Homo sapiens: one gene and its partners. The protein of the gene in region 1 purifies or fractionates together with the protein of each later gene. This does not show direct contact. Each region holds a gene or a part of one and is shown in the gene's direction. Other genes may lie near its edges. The genes, in order: OTUD5, PPP2CA and RUVBL2.

Evidence for each region.
Region 2: the proteins of OTUD5 (region 1) and PPP2CA purify together in Homo sapiens (affinity purification with mass spectrometry, with the first as the bait; 3 studies listed by BioGRID). This does not show direct contact.
Region 3: the proteins of OTUD5 (region 1) and RUVBL2 purify together in Homo sapiens (affinity purification with mass spectrometry, with the first as the bait; 3 studies listed by BioGRID). This does not show direct contact.

The regions. Positions count from the first base shown.
Region 1 is NC_000023.11:48,947,515-48,951,167, reverse strand, and holds part of OTUD5 (OTU domain-containing protein 5), read left to right. Parts: intron 1-3,653. UniProt on the Homo sapiens protein: Deubiquitinating enzyme that functions as a negative regulator of the innate immune system. Has peptidase activity towards 'Lys-48'- and 'Lys-63'-linked polyubiquitin chains. Can also cleave 'Lys-11'-linked ubiquitin chains (in vitro).
Region 2 is NC_000005.10:134,202,074-134,205,726, reverse strand, and holds part of PPP2CA (serine/threonine-protein phosphatase 2A catalytic subunit alpha isoform), read left to right. Parts: intron 1-3,653. UniProt on the Homo sapiens protein: Catalytic subunit of protein phosphatase 2A (PP2A), a serine/threonine phosphatase involved in the regulation of a wide variety of enzymes, signal transduction pathways, and cellular events.
Region 3 is NC_000019.10:49,010,767-49,013,711, forward strand, and holds part of RUVBL2 (ruvB-like 2), read left to right. Parts: intron 1-232; coding exon 233-327; intron 328-425; coding exon 426-544; intron 545-2,945. UniProt on the Homo sapiens protein: Possesses single-stranded DNA-stimulated ATPase and ATP-dependent DNA helicase (5' to 3') activity; hexamerization is thought to be critical for ATP hydrolysis and adjacent subunits in the ring-like structure contribute to the ATPase activity.

The DNA.
Region 1 (3,653 bases):
TGCCATCTTTTGCCCCCCCACCCCACCCCCACTTCAGTGGCAGCTCATCCATCCATAGGCAGGGTCAGTAGTTTCCCAGGGTGAGAAGGGAGATTCCAGGCCCCTGCTGCCTTAATTCTAACCTCCCACCCTGGAGGATGGTAGGCAGGTGGACCTTGCAGAGCGGGATCCATGCCATATTGTCTCACACCTGTGAGGCACTAGGGAACAGACACCAAGGAGTGCTACCAAGGGGGGTGTGTTAGTTTCCTGTGGCTGTTGTGACAAATGTTACCACAGACTGGGTGGTTTAAAACAACAGAAGTTGGCCGGGTGCGGTGGCTCACCCCTGTAATCCCAGCACTTTGGGAGGCCGAGGCGGGTGGATCACGAGGTCAGGAGTTCAAGACCAGCCTGGCCAAGATAGTAAAACCCCATCTCTACTAAAAATATAAAAATTAGCTGGGTGTGGTGGTGGGTGCCTGTAATCCCAGCTACTCGGGAGGCTGAGGCAGAGAATTGCTTGAACCCAGGAGACGGATTGGAGGTTGCAGTGAGGTGGGGGTTGCAGTAAGCTGAGATTGCGCCACTGCACTCCAGCCTGGGTGACAGAGCGAGACTCCATCTCAAAAAAAAAAAAAAAAAAAAAAAGAGAGAGAGAAGTTTATTCTGTCACAATTCTGGAGGCCAGAAGTCCACAATCAGTTTCACTGCATCCAAATCAAAGTGTTGGCAGGGCCACACTCCTTCTGGAAGCTCTCAGGGAGAATTTAGACCTTCTCTAGCCTCTCGTGGCTGCCAACATTCCTTGGTTTATGACTGCATCATTCTAATCTCTGCCTCCATCTTCACCATCGCCTTCTCTGTATATGTGGTTTCCTTTTCTGTCTGTATCAAATTTCCCTCTGTCTCTCTTTTATAAGGACACTTGTGATTGCATTTAGGTCCTACCTGATACTCTAAGATAACCCCCCATCTCCAGATTTAATAATGTAAGTTAATTACATCTGCAAACACTTTTTTTCTTTTCTCTTCTCTTTTTTTTTTTTTTTTTGAGGTGGAATCTCACTCTGTCACCCAGGCGCAGTCTCGGCTCACCGCAACCTCCGCCTCCTGGGTTCAAGCTATTCTCCTGCCTCACCCTCCTGAGTAGCTGGGATTGCAGGCGCCCACCACCACACCTGGCTAATTTTTGTATTTTTAGTAGAGATGGGGTTTTGCCATGTTGGCCAGGCTGGTTTCAAACTCCTGACCTTAGTTGATCCACCCGCCTCGGCCTCCCAAAGTGCTGGGATTACAGGCATGAGCCACTGTGCCCGGGCTTTTCTTTTCTTTTCAGACAGTGCTGGCCTCTGTCACCCAGGCTGGAGTGCAGTGGCGTAATCTTGGCTCACTGCACCCTCCACTTCCTGGACTCAAGTGATCCTCCAGCCTCAGCCTCCTGAGTAGCTGGGACCACAGGTGCGAGCCACCATGCCCGGTTAATTTTTGGTGTTTATTTATTTGTTTTTGAGATGGAGTCTCGCTGTGTCACCCAGGCTGGAGTGCAGTGGTGCTATCTCGGCTCACTGCAACCTTCGCCTCCCAGGTTCCAGCGATTCTCCTGCCTCAGCCTCCTGAGTAGTTGGGATTACAGGCGCCTGCTACCATGACCAGCTAATTTTTGTATTTTTAGTAGAGATAGGGTTTCACCATGTTGGCCAGGCTGGTCTCGAACTCCTGACCTCAGGTGATCCACCCGCCTCGGCCTCCCAGAGTGCCGCGATTACAGGCGTGAATCACCGTACCTGGCCTGTATTTTTTGTAGAGATGAGATTTCACCATGTTGCCCAGGCTAGTCTTGAACTCTTGAGCTCAAAGCGATCTGCCTGCCTTAGCCTCCCAAAGTGCTGGGATTGCAGGCATGAGCCACGACGCCTGGCCCTACCTTTTTCATTATAAGGTAACATTTACAAGTTCCAGGGGGGTTAGGGTTTGATATCTTTGCGTGGCTATTAATCAGCCTACTAGAGAGGCTTTTTTCCCTCCTGGGGAAGGGAAGGGAACTCATTAAGTGGTCTCTTACTGGGCAAAGCCCTGTAATATTTGAGTCTGCCCAGCATCCCTATTATTGGGAGGCTTGGTATCCCCATTCACAGATTGGAAAACTGTGGCTCAGAGCAGTTCATCATCACATGGCTAATAATTGGTGGAGCTAGATTGGAACCTAAGTCAGTTGGGTTCCACAGCCTGCTCCAACTTCACTTGGGCCCTTAGACCACTAGGTTACAGAATCTTGCCTCAGCTCCTGGGATCCTCTGGTGTTAGGGAGCTTTACTCAGCCTTTTTGTGGAGGCTCAAAGATATGGAGGGATTTTCCCATAGGCTCAGCGATGAGTTTGCAAGGTTCACAATCTCCTCAGGCCAGGGCATTGTTGGAGCTTAAACTTATCTATGGCTGAGCTATCCCCTACCCCCCACCCCTACTAGCCCTTCCTGAGCAACATTTTCTCCCCAAAAGGAGAAAGAGAAGGGCCAGAGCCCAAACTCCTCAGGCTGCTGATGACAAAGCCAGTGGGTGGCTAGCAGTCCAGCCTCTAGATCCAAGCCTGGATGCCAGTTTGACTGCCCCAGGACCCAAACCCTGCAGTGCGAGGGGCCTATTCAGGTCTCTTTCATGTTTAGAGACAAACCAGGATATTCTGTGGATGGGCTGCAAGGTATGTCCTCCATGCTGTGGCTCGTGGGGGCCTTCCCTGTTGCCTCTACACTAGGCTTTGCTGGTATCCAAACTCCAGCTCCTTTCTCTTTCTGCCTTTGTTTTTTTGTTTTTTGTTTTGTTTTTGTTTTTGTTTTTGAGACATAGTCTTGCTCTGTTGCCCAGGCTGGCTGGGGTGCAATGGTGCCATCTCGGCTCACTGCAACCTCCACCTCCCGAGTTCAAGCGATTCTCCTGTCTCAGCCTCCCAAGTAACTGGGATTACAGGCACACGCCACCACGCCCTGCTAATTTTTTGTATTTTCAGTAGAGACAAGGCTTCGCCATGTCGGCCAGGCTGGTCTTAAACTCCTAACCTCAGATGATCCTTCCGCCTTGGCCTCCCAAAGTGCTGGGATTACAGGCGTGAGCCACCGTGTCTGGCCTCCTTTCTGCCTTTGTAAAGTGAGGGTAATGTTTCCTGCCACCTGGGCTGTGGTCAGGAAAATTAAACGAGGTCACCCTTTGCATCTGGCATGGGGCAGGTATTCAGTTAATATGAGTTCATCTTTCTTCCTGGTCCTCCCTGCTTACCTGCCTAGTACTACCCAGAACTTTAGCTCTACTGAATTCATTGCTGGGCTCCAGGCATTCCTGGTACTTCGTGGCAGAAGTGACTTCATTTCTCATCCAGTTAACAAGCATTTTTGGAGGTCTTGGTGTTTTAATCCTTTGGTCAGGTGGCACCTCCTCTCAGGTGCTAGCCTTAATGACTGTGTTTCTTTTTTTCTTTTTTTTTTTTTTCCTTGAGACAGAGTTTTGCTCTTATTGCCCAGGCTGGAGTGCAATGGTGCGATCTTGGCTCACCACAACCTCCGCCTCCCGGGTTCAAGCGATTCTCCTGCCTCAGCCTCCCGAGTAGCTGGGATTACAGGCATGCACCACCACACCTGGCTAATTTTGTATTTTTCAGTAGAGACGGGGTTTCTCCATGTTG
Region 2 (3,653 bases), on another chromosome or scaffold:
AAAGGAGGAGAATGAATGCCTCAGTCAGATTGTTTGAAAAAATAGGCTGGGCGTGATGGCTTATGCCTGTAATCCCAGCACTTTGGGACGCTGAGGTAGGCAGATCACCTGAGGTCAGGAGTTCGAGACCAGCCTGGAGAACATGGTGAAGCCCCATCTCTACTAAAAGTACAAAAAACTAGCCGGGGGTGGTGGCGGGTGCCTGTAATCCCAGCTACTCTGGAGCCTGAGGCAGGAGAATTGCTTGAACCTGGGAGGCGGAGGTTGCAGTGAGCTGAGATTGCGCCACTACACGCCAGCCTGGACAACAGAGCGAGACTGTCTCAAAAAAAAAAAAAGGAAAAGAAAAATGTTAGAGGGCTGGTCAAATAGATATTTTAGTTCAGTAAATTGGGGTATGGAGAGGTAATATAATTAGATTTGTGTTTTTAGATACTTTTGAAGTATTATAAATATATAAACATACCAAATGTCAAAATGTTTTAAATCAGCTGGTCACGGTGGCTCGTGGCTATAATCCCAGCACTTTGGGAGGACAGGACAAAGTGAGCATATTGCTTGAGTCCAAGAGTTTGTGACCAGCCTGGGCAACATAGTGAGACCTTGTCTACAAAAAAATAATAATAATTAACCGAGTGTGGTGGCACAGGCCTGTAGTCCCAGCTACTCAGGCTGAGGTGGGCAGAGTTGCCTGAGCCCAGGAGGTCGTGGCTGCAATGAGACTTGATCTTGCCACCCTACACTCTAACTTGGGGAACAATGAGACCCTGTCTCAAAAAAAAAAAAAAATATCGAGGAAGAAGTTCAAGAAAAAAAAGAATTTTTCTGAGAAATTCAAGAAAACATTTGCTGTAAATATTTAACAGAGAATATTATGTACATTACATACATTATGTATGTACATATGGTTTAGCTCAGTTGAATAGTTTCCAGCCATTAACCATGACAGTAATAATCTAGACTAGGCTGGGTGCAGTGGTTCACGCCTGTTATCTCAACACTTTGGGAGGCTGGGGAAGGCGGGAAGGATCACTTGAGTCCAGGAGTTTAAGAACAGCGTAGTCAACATAAACCCCATCTCTACAAAAAGTTAAAAAAAATAGCCAGGTGCAGTGGTGCATGCTTGTAGTCTCAGCTACTCAGGAAGCTGAGGTGGGAGGATCACTTGAACCTGGGAGGTCAAGGCTACAGTGAGCCATGATGCACCACTGCACTCCAGCCGTGTGACAGAGCAAGACCCCTGTGTCTTTAAAAAACAAAAATCTAGAATGGTAGAAATGATAACCGAAAAAAGCAAGTTCCAAAATTACATGCATTACATGCCAATTGTAGCTTTGCAAAGTGTACTGATGATGATCTGAACATGAAGCAAAAGATGGTAAAGAGCTGTTAGGGTGGCAGGCTTCCGCCTTTCCCTTTAAATAAATTGTTTGACTTTACCTTTACCCAAAAATCTTGGGGAGATTTTTTCCCCCCTAGGCAACAGACTGATTTTTATTATTAAAGAATATTCAAAATGATAAATGGCTGTCACAGACTTTCCTAATATTAGAGAAGCAGTGAGATGTGGTTTTAGCGTGAGCTGAATTTTCTTGATTAATATCTGAATTGTGTAAAGTCCTACGAAATATTTTTGGAGATCGTTATTTTCTGCATCTGTAAAATGAAGGAGTTGGACTAGATGGTGGAAGGTTTCTGCGGTGACTCCAAATACTATGAAAAGAGCTAACCTGTGCTAAAAACCCAGGATGAATCCCAGTGCTCAGAGGAATGAATGTGCTACCTTTAAGAGTATGCAAGCAGCCTGGGCAACCTAGTGAGACCCCATCTCTTCAGAAAACAATTTTAGCCAGACATGGTGACATGTGCTGTAGTCCTAGCCACTCTGGAGGCTGAGGTGGGAGGATTGCTTGAGCCTAGGAATTTCAGGCTGCGGTGAGCTACTCCACTGCATTTGAGCCTGGGCGACAGAGTGAGATCCTATCTGGGGGGAAAAAAACTTACTCATGGAGGTTAATGGGCTGAATTGTAGCCCCCAAAATTCATTTGTCTAAGTCCTAACCCACAGCACCTCAGAATGTGACTGTATTTGGACAGGTAATTAAGGTAAAGTGGGGTCACATGGTTGGACCCTAATCCAGTGTAAGTGGTATCCTTATTAGAGATTAGGACACAGATGGGGAGAAGATAAGACAGATGGAGAAGATGAGCATCCATAAATCAAGGAGAGAGGCCATCAGAAGAAACCAACTGTGCTGACACCTTGATCTTGGACTTCTGCCTCTGGAACAGTGAGGAAGTAAATTTCTGTTGTTTAAGCCACCTATTCTCTGATGCTTTGTTGTGGCAGCCTTAGCAAAAGAATACCGGGGGAAAGGATGTTTCTTTCAGTAAATGGTGCTGAAGCAAATGGATCAGAATGTATCATAGAACTAAATGTAAGAGCTAAAGCTACAAAACTTCTAGAATAAATCAGAAAATCTTTGTCAGGTTAGTTAAAGATTCTTAGATATAACAAAAGCACAGTCCATAAAAAATTGAAAAATCGGACTTTATCAAAATTAAGATTATGTTTTTTCAAAAGATGACACCAGAAAAAAAGTACTTGTATTCAGATATTTAAAAAAAAAAAACTTTTACAGCTCAATAACAAGACAGATAATTGTAAAATGGGCAAAATATTTGAATAGATATTTTACCCAAGAAGATGATACATGAGTGGTCAGTGAGCACATGAAAAGATGCTTGATATCAATTGTAATCAGGGAAATGCAAATTAAAGTAACTGAGTTACTACTTCACATCTATTAGAATGGCTGTAATCAGTAAGGTTGATAATACCAAGTGTTGGTTAATACCGGAGATTAAACTCTTCATGCATTGCTGGTGGGAATATAACATGGTCTAGCTACTTTGAAAAACAGTTTGACTGTTTCTCAAAAAGTTAAACGTTACCAGGTGATCCAACAATTATATTCTTAGGAATCTTCCTAAAAGAAATGAAAGCATATGTCCACAGAAAAACTTCCATGTATATGATTATAGCAACATTATTCATAGTAGCCAAAAACCTCAGTAACATAATTGCCAGTTCATCTTAACTGTGAATAGAGAAACAAAAAATGGTATAGCCATACAGTGAAGGACTGTGCAACTATGAAAAGGAACAAACCACTGATCTATGCCAGAACATGGGTGAGCCTCAAAAATATTCTAAGTGATATTTAGCCAAAAGACTACATTTTGTATTCCATTTATATGACATTTCTAGAAAAGACAAACTCAAGACAGTAAATCAGTGGTTGCCAGGAGCTGGAGTGGGAGTGGAGAGTGACTGCAGGAGGGATCTTTTTGGGATAATGGAAAGGTTCTAAAACTGGATTGTGGTGATTGTTGCATAACTATAAATTTGTGAAAAATTACTGAACCGTAAAGTAATTTATGGGGTTTTAATAGCCCATTGATTTATGTTTGGTATAAAGTTGGTGGTAGAGGGAGTTTGATTTTAGTTGAGATGAGGTGGGCAAACACCCCATGGGCATTTAAAAATTCTGTAGAGCTGTGGTTTTGGTTCACTATGATATGAGGATGTGTGCTGTTTTTTCAACAAAATTGTAACTGCATTTTTTTCTATAGAAAGTTTCTTGAATTTT
Region 3 (2,945 bases), on another chromosome or scaffold:
TCCGCTCCGTCCCCACCCCTGCTGGTGCTGTGATGGGTGTGGCCCTGCCCTCTCCCCTCCTGTGTTCTCTGCCTCTGTTCCTCCTCTTTGGGGATGTTTCAGGCTCCTCATCCCTCCTTGCTTTGCTCCCCTTCCTCCATCCCTGGCATCATCCTTCTCTGTCTTAGCCACACTCTGGCCCTGGAACCCGCCTCCTCTCTGGCTTCCCTGATGCAACCTGTGCCTCCCATAGGTGACACAGGGGAGATCAAGTCAGAAGTCCGTGAGCAGATCAATGCCAAGGTGGCTGAGTGGCGCGAGGAGGGCAAGGCGGAGATCATCCCTGGAGTGAGGACCCAGGACATGGCCGGGGCGGGTGGTGGGGTGGAGGTGGGCCGGGGAAGTGGGGACGCGGGTGGTGACTCTCACACACACCCCAATCCAAGGTGCTGTTCATCGACGAGGTCCACATGCTGGACATCGAGAGCTTCTCCTTCCTCAACCGGGCCCTGGAGAGTGACATGGCGCCTGTCCTGATCATGGCCACCAACCGTGGCATCACGCGGTGAGCCGGCTACAGGGGCCTCTGGGGAAAACAGGATGCTCTGGGCAGTGGGTGTGGTCAGAGGGTCAATGGGAGCCTGTGTTGACACCGGGTCAGGGAGGGACGCGTGACTGCAGTGTGCGCTCTTTGCTTACAAAAGGCGGGTGGGAGGCAGCTCTGCTTCCCGAGGAAGCCCAGAGACTGTGTTCTTGCTGCCTTTCTGTCTTGCTGCTCCTTTAGCCCCCAAGGCTGCAGTCTTCAAACTGCGTGCCGAGGCACCCCAGGGTGCTGCAGGAAACTCACAGGAGTGCTGTGGGATGTTTTCTAGTCTTGAGGGAAGCACAGTGACATCTGTTAGACATAACATAAACTACGATTGTTCAGTCACTTCGACCCAGCAACTCCATTAACAGAACTCTTAGCGTTGTGTTTGGCCTAAGGATGCCAGGGACAGATTCCCATGACACAGAGGGTACCGTGCTCTGCTGAAGCCTGGGAACCTCATCTCCCAGGTGTTGCCAGCACCCTGTGCACGGGGAACTCTTAATGTTGTGTTTGGCCTGAGGATGCCGGGGACAGATTCCTGTGACACAGAGGGTACTGTGCTGTGCTGAAGCCTGGGAACCTCGTCTCCCAGGTGTTGCCAGCACCCTGTGTAGCTGGGATTACGGGCACCTGCCACCATGCCCGCTGGCTGTCTTCTCCACCTCGCCACATTTTGGCCCGCAGGAAGCAGGGGGATGTGGAGGGCAGGCAGCCCCCATAGGCTGTGATCCACAGGCTGCACCCCAACCTTGCACCCCCATTCCATTGCCCGGCACTGCTTGGGCTCAGTGCTGTACCTGGTGGCAAAGAAGGCTGGGTACTGTCAGCTCCAGCCCTGCAGCCTTGGGCCCAGCTGAAACTGGGCGGTTGGGATGGGCATCACAAAAGGGAAGAAGCGGGCACCCTACAGAGGATGCTGGGCCGCTGGGCCTGGCTCTGTGTTTGGCTCTTTTAACTCCTTGGATCCGCAGAAGAAGCTCAGAAGGTAGATATCACCTCAGCCCCATTTTATAGGGCAGGACAGTGAGGCCCAGTGACTTGCCCAGGTCACAAGTCTAGAAGGTAGCAGGGCCGTAATTTGGTCTCTGGATGGCTGGACACTGGAAGAGACCCCCAGGGCTGATGGTGTTTTCACAGAAACTGCAGGTCAGGGCCTGGGGACTGCCCAGGGGCACCTCCTGTGGGAGGCAGCAGCTACGGGCAGCCCTGATTGTTCGTAGACTCTGTATCTGAGAATCTCGCTTGCTAAGATTTATTTGTAATCCCCAAATAAATATCTGCCCTGCTTTCGGCAACAAATTCAAGTCACCTGACACCCACTTTCCCAGCTGAGTGTGAACGAGGCAACACTGCCTGCTCCCTTAGCGCTCATGCTGTAAATAAGTGTCCTTGTTGTATTCTATTTAGTGCTACGTTTGTCACTTTTGTTCTTTGAGACAGGGTCTTGCTCTGTCGCCCAGGCTGGAGTGCAGAGGCACGATCATGGCACACTGCAGCCTCAGTGCCCACCACACACACACACACACACACACACACACACACACACACACCACCCCTGGGACTCAATCAGTCCTCTGGCCTCAGCCTCCTCATCAGCTGGGACCACGGGCATGCACCACTATGCCTAGCTAATTTCTGTTTTTGTTTTGAGACGGAGTCTAGCTCTGTCACCAGGCTGGAGTGCAGTGGCACGATCTCGGCTCACTGCAACCTCTGCCTTCTGGGTTCAAGCAGTTTTCCTGCCTCAGCCTCCTGAGTAGCTGGGATTATGGGCACCCGCCACCATGCCCAGCTAATTTTGGTATTTTTAGTAGAGACAGGGTTTCACCATATTGGCCAGGCTGGTCTCGAACTCCTGACCTCGTGATCTGCCCACCTCAGCCTCCCAAAGTGTTGAGATTACAGGGGTGAGTCACCGCGTCCGGCCTAATTTTTTTTTTTTTTTTGTAGAGATGGTGTTTTGCCATGTTGCCCAGGCTGGTCTCAAACTCCTGGGCTCAAGCAATCCACCCGCCTCAGCCTCCCAAAGTGTTGTCACTTTTTTTGTGCCTTTTTTTTTTAAACTTTTTGGGGCCATTTGTTGGTGATATTGCCATTTAAAGTGTCCCCTGTGCACAGTGTTGAAGTGCTGTCTAGTATCCTAAGTGCAAGGAGGCTGTGAAGCCTGACGGAGAAAATGCCATGTTACAGACGCTTCGCTGAGCCCAAGTTAGAATGCTGTTGACACGAGCTCCATGTTAGAGAATAAACAGTGATGTTACATAACAAACACATGGAAATAGAAACACACATACATGAGGCCAGGCGCGGTAGCTCACACCTGTAATCCCAGCACTTTGGGAGGCCGAGGTGGGTGGATCACGAGGTCAAGAGAATG